Regions from separate parts of the Homo sapiens genome. Here region 2 is linked to region 1. The links come from fine-mapping of genetic effects on gene expression. A gene starts in region 1. The other region holds a variant in brackets. All regions are shown on one strand. Distances are between the middles of the regions.

Evidence for each region. PIP is the estimated chance that this variant, and not a neighbour inherited with it, causes the effect. A credible set is the group of variants that fine-mapping cannot tell apart.
Region 2: its variant is the best candidate, but not a certain one, in a credible set for the expression of PERP in subcutaneous fat (GTEx, PIP 0.76).

Annotation. Positions count from the first base shown.
Region 1 is chr6:138,106,045-138,108,957 of GRCh38, reverse strand. PERP (p53 apoptosis effector related to PMP22) reads left to right here and starts at 1,539. Exons shown (of 3, transcript NM_022121.5): 1 at 1,539-1,831. The coding sequence starts at 1,618. RefSeq lists a silencer at 1,361-1,410.
Region 2 is chr6:138,010,198-138,013,110 of GRCh38, reverse strand. No RefSeq gene overlaps it. Among named protein-coding and RNA genes, the nearest start is that of SIMALR, 66 kb to the right of the region's middle. The variant G/A (reference allele first, on the strand shown) is at 1,715.

The DNA.
Region 1 (2,913 bases):
GCCACTTTGCTTCTGGTCAGTATTTGACTTATAAGAATTTTTTTTTCTCACAAATATATTATACATAGCTAATTAAACAAATATCTTCATTACTTTTGAAAACCCTGAGAACATAAATATCACCATTTTCTTCACACAGCTTCCACGATACAAAATTAACTTTTGGCAGAACACCCTCTTGTGTTCTTTGAAAGTGAAAATATTTTCCTGTAATAAAAATATATGACGTGGTTTATGTAAAACTTGAATTATGTAAAATGAAGGCTAGGGAAATTATTTCATGTATTTTCAGATACTTTCTCCATGCTTTTATTCGTCCTCAAGAATTGCCAGAAAATGGCATAAGTCAAAAGAGTATTCTGTTTCTATTGAGAATATCAAATTGGAATACAATTTAAAATATTTTTAAGTAGTTCCCACTTTTATATTAAATTAACAGAAAAAATAGGGGATTCAGAAGAAATCTTTGGAGGTACAGGGTTAAGACATGACCCCCATACGATGTTTCAGTGATTTTCCCAAGGCCACCGAGGTGCCTGACACTGAGAACTCCTTTGTCCTCAGCGGCACACCTGGCTGCCACCCCACCCTTCCTGTCACATCTTAGGAGTCAGAACTGCGACGGGAGCTAGCCCAGGACACCGAAGGGGGGATCCTAAATGCAGGTTGCATGCTGACGTATGATTTTTATTTGGAAAAACCTCAAAATAGTAAATGAAGAGTAGAGAGAGTGCAGTTTAAATAGGTAGAGATTCGTGATAGGAAGTGGACTGCAGCAGAGGCGACATGAAATTATCTGGGGAAGCCAGATGAAGCCTTTCCGAAAGGAAGCGAGCATTTGTTAAATTACATGTTCATTCATCAAATTCACTGAGCTCCCCTTGAGATCCAAACACGGTGCCGGACACTAAGGATACACAGATAAATTCAGCATCGCCTCCGCTTTCCAAAATCTGGCAACCCAGCAGGAAAGAACAGCATGCAAAGAGATAAGAGTACCCGGGGAGCCACGGTCCAAGGTGCAAAGGCGGAGCCTAGGAGGAAGGGATCACCTGTGTCAGCAGGGGTCAGGGACGGGCTTCTGGGTTTGGGTGCACGCGTCCAAAGGAGTGCAGCCTTTATCCACAGGTGCAATTAGAACACCCATCTCACACTGCTGAAAACTCAGATATGGCACTGCTGACCACCGCCCCACGATGCGACATCAGGGGTCAGATATTAGGCTGGCGCTGTGCAGATAAACAAGTGTATATGTTGGTGCGCCAGGAAGACAAAACACGCGCCTGGAGAGGCCAGGAGAGCGGGACTGGAGGGTTGTGGGACGCGCGGGACCCTCGGGCCGCCTTCCGCCGCCGCCCGGTGTCACCAGAACCCAGCCTGTTTACCAGCGGCCCCGCCCGCCCCGGCCCGGCAGGGCAGGTCGGGGCGGGCGCGCTCTGAGTCACCGGAATCTAGGTGGGGCCGCCCGGAGCGGCGTCCTCGGGAGCCGCCTCCCCGCGGCCTCTTCGCTTTTGTGGCGGCGCCCGCGCTCGCAGGCCACTCTCTGCTGTCGCCCGTCCCGCGCGCTCCTCCGACCCGCTCCGCTCCGCTCCGCTCGGCCCCGCGCCGCCCGTCAACATGATCCGCTGCGGCCTGGCCTGCGAGCGCTGCCGCTGGATCCTGCCCCTGCTCCTACTCAGCGCCATCGCCTTCGACATCATCGCGCTGGCCGGCCGCGGCTGGTTGCAGTCTAGCGACCACGGCCAGACGTCCTCGCTGTGGTGGAAATGCTCCCAAGAGGGCGGCGGCAGCGGGTCCTACGAGGAGGGCTGTCAGAGCCTCATGGAGTACGGTGAGTGCCCGCCGCCGCCGCCGTCGCCGCCTCCAGGAAGCCCTCGGGGCCGCGGCCTGCAAAAGCCGCCGCGCGTGATGGGCCCTCACAGGGTCGGGGGAGCCAGTGCTTTTCAGAATGCCTGTTTAGGACGAGCTCGGGCTCATGCATCCGACCTGAACCAAATGCAGCAGCAGTAGCTTTGGGTGGCCAACACCAAGCTCAGAAACAGAAAAAAAAAAAAGGCCGTAGTTCAAACTGTATAGTTTTTTTCCTGGGTTTTGTCGGTTACGTACGAAAGATTATTTCAAGCATTGCAAGTTTAGATGAGTAAATATAATGAACAAAGTTTCTTGGAGACCTGAAATTTCTTCCCATTTCTCTTCCTTCTCGTTTCTTCTTATGATTAAAATATAAATATTGAAATAACGTGCCTTCCCTAATATCAGTGGATTCGTTCAACTTGATATAGCTGAAAAAACTTTCTCATTTAAAAAAGCCCTTTCAGGCAGTTTTAGCAGTTAACGTTTTCAATAGATATTTCAGTCTACTTTACCGGTCAGGCTAGTTCTTGTTAGCTCTTGTTCTAGGGCGTGTCCTTTGGTTTAAGCATGGCATTGTTGTTTAGAAAACTTAATTATTTTAATCCGATTTGAAATCTAAAAAGCAAACACATTCCCTACACTCGCGACGTGAAGCAGAGTTGACAAATTTAATGTACCTAGCAGGTGAAGTACTGTATGCCATTTTCCCAGCATGGAGGAAGCTCCCTGCTTGCCTTGCTGAAAGTCAGGACTGGAGCATAGTTCTTGTCTGAGAAGGCATTTTCTTTCACAGTGGGAAGCCCCCTCTCCTTTCCTGGGGGTGGATGGGAATCACAGCTGGGGTCTACTGTGATTAGCAATGTGTGTGGGGGTGGAGATGGGGTCTGTGAGAGCCTAATAAAACCTTAAAGCCAAATGGGCTTTACCTACCGGGTTTAATAGTTTTAAACACAGACAGCAAGCTACCCTGCCTGTTTTCATTTCTTACTATTACCATTGACTTGATTTTTTTCTTTGAAGTGGCCCAGGGCTTCCAACCCAATCCTGTTTATTTGTGTT
Region 2 (2,913 bases), 96 kb after region 1:
GTTCTATTAATTCTTGACTGTGCATCTCCTCTGTCTCTCTCCTTTCCTATGGAGTCTGGCTTACTGAAGGGATAATCCACACATGATCATCAGCTCATTACCATCTGACATTCTCTGACTAAGCTTTCTCATCTACATCACCAATACCTTCCTTCTATACTACAAACATAGCAGGCATTTCGGCCTATATTTTTCTCTTTGTACTCTTTGGCTTCTATGACATATTACTTCCTGGTTCTTCTCTTGCTACTTGGATCACACCTACTTGGCCCCCTTCCAGGAAATCTCATTCTCTGGCCTCCACTTAAATGTTGGTGTTGCCCAGAACTCTGTTCTCAGCCTTCTTTTCTTTGTAAAAGCCATAGATGCAAATAGTACTAGTGATATTTATTGTTCTGAAATGTATGTTTACAATCTCTTTCCTCAGCTGCATATAATGGACACCCCGGCCTGGATGTCCTTAAACTCAGCATTCCTTATTCCAGAATTTCTTCTTTCTTTCTTTTTTTGAGATATGGTGTCAATCTGTCACCCAGGCTGAAGTGCAGTGGTGCAATCTCAGCCCACTGCAACCTCTGCTTCCCAGGGGCTTAAGGAATCCTCCCACCTCAACCTCCCAAGTAGCTGAGACTACAGGTGTGTGCCACCACATCTAATTTATTTTTTAGTTTTTATTTTTATTTTTGTAGAGATGGGATTTTGCCATGTTTCCCAGGCTGGTCTGGAACTCCTGGACCCAAGCAATCTGCCTGCCTCAGCCTCGCAAAGTGCTGGGGTTACAAGCGTGAGCCACTGCACCCAGCCCCAGAATTCTTTATTTCTGAGAATGACATTGTCATTCTCTAAATGACCCAGGCAAAGCCTGAAGCATAATCTTAAATTTCTCCTCCTGCTCCCTCCTTATATTCTCTTCACCCACCCCCCATATTCAATTGTACCCATTCTATCCTTCTAAATGTCACTCATATTTTTCTCTCTATCACCATCATAAGGGCTAATACTGAATAATCATTAAGGGCAGGTATTGTACCATATATCATCTTGTTCCTAGTGCATAGAATATTGGCACAATTTCACTATATTTTATAGAATATATGAAAGAATGAATAAGGGAATATACAAGTAAATAGATGGACCAATCAATTCAAGTTCAGTCTTTCTGACTTTAAGAAACAGAGACGTTTGTAACCTAGGTTAACGGAAGTACAAAGGGAGGTAGGGTATCTTAGTTTAAGGAAACACATAGCATACAGGGAGATGAACCAAAACGCAAAATAAGAAACAGTAGACCAGCCAGTATTCTGTCAAGGCAGCGGTCTCTAAGAACCTCAACTCCTGGAGTTTCTGAAACTTCACTCTAATTCTCCTCCATTTATAGGAGTCTGCTATTTTCTGGGGGGGGTCTGCTCTGTTTGCCTCTCAGTACATCTCATTTACCCCTTTACTCAGCATATGTTTTTCCTGCATACATCACTGAATCTGCCTACTCATAGTTTCTGCCTTCTCATTGCTGCTTGGCCATGACTTGCTGTGATCACAACATGACCTCCTACCTTCATCTAAACATCACTCCAACTTTAGCTCCTACTGTCTGGTTCTCTCTGTACTTCCCAATTCAAGTCCCCAAGGGCAAGAAATGGATGGACCTGGCTCAGTTTGAAAATGCCACTCCACTGAATAACTGCTCTTGAGCAATTGTCCAACCCAGTCCACC[G/A]TGTTTGGTAATGAAGAGTCCCATGACCCAAACCATGGCTGGAACAGTAGTCGTGGCAGGGATTGTGACAGACGTGGAACACAAACACTCATCATGTTGCTCCCAGGGTTATCAAAAATATATGAATTCTTACCCCCAAGGAGGGTGGAAAGGGGCTCACCCAAGGTAGTGGGAAATGCTGGGCTAAAGAAGGCAGCAGAGTCAAAACCCACCGAGGAATGTTAAGGCTACGAATGCCAGGGTGGGACTCCAGAGAATCAACACATGCTTTATGGGGGAATAGCACCATAGCTATGTTTTTTTGTTTTTGTTTTTGTTTTTTTTTTTTTTTTTGAGATGGAGTCTTGCTCCGTTGCCCAGGCTTGGGTGCAGTGGTATGATCTCCGCTCATTCTAATTTTCACCTCCTGGGTTCAAGCAATTCTCCTGCCTCAGCCTCCTGAGTAGCTGGGCTTATAGGCACTCACTACCATGCTGGCTAATTTTTGTATTTTTAGTAGAGACAGAGTTTCACCGGGTTGGCCAGGCTGGTCTCGAACTCCTGACCTCAAGTGATCTGTCTGCCTCGGCCTCCCAAAGTGCTGGGATTACAGGCATGAGCCACCATGCCAGGCCCATAGCAATGCTTTTGGTGGGAAGGAAGAGCAAGATTTGAGAATGTCCTAAGAATATTACTTTCCAACTCTAGGTTACACAGCACAAAGGCCCAGAAGCAAAACAGACAGTTTTTGGGAGCTGATTTCTTTGCTTCTAGGCTAGCCCCCACTGTGGCTGCCATTTTTAGATTTTAAGTAACATTTTCCCTGATGATAAAAATGGTTACTTAAAAATCTGGAAAATAATTAATTAAAAAATAAAAATTAATGGTATTTTCCCTACCTAGCAAGAACCACAGTCACAATTTCATAAAATTTTGTAGTCTTTTTCTCTATGCATTTTTTTTTCCTAAAAGGTTGAGGTTTTATATTGTAATTTTTTTCTTTTTCTTTTCTTTTTTTTTTTTGAGACAGAGTCTCACTCTGTCACCCAGGCTGGAGTGCTGTGGTGCGATCTCGGCTCACTGCAAACTCCACCTCCTGGGTTCACGCCATTCTCCTGCCTTAGCCTCCTGAGTAGCTGGGACTACAGGCGCCCGCCACCACGCCCAGCTGACTTTTTTTTTGTATATTTAGTAGAGACGGGGTTTCACCGTGTTAGCCA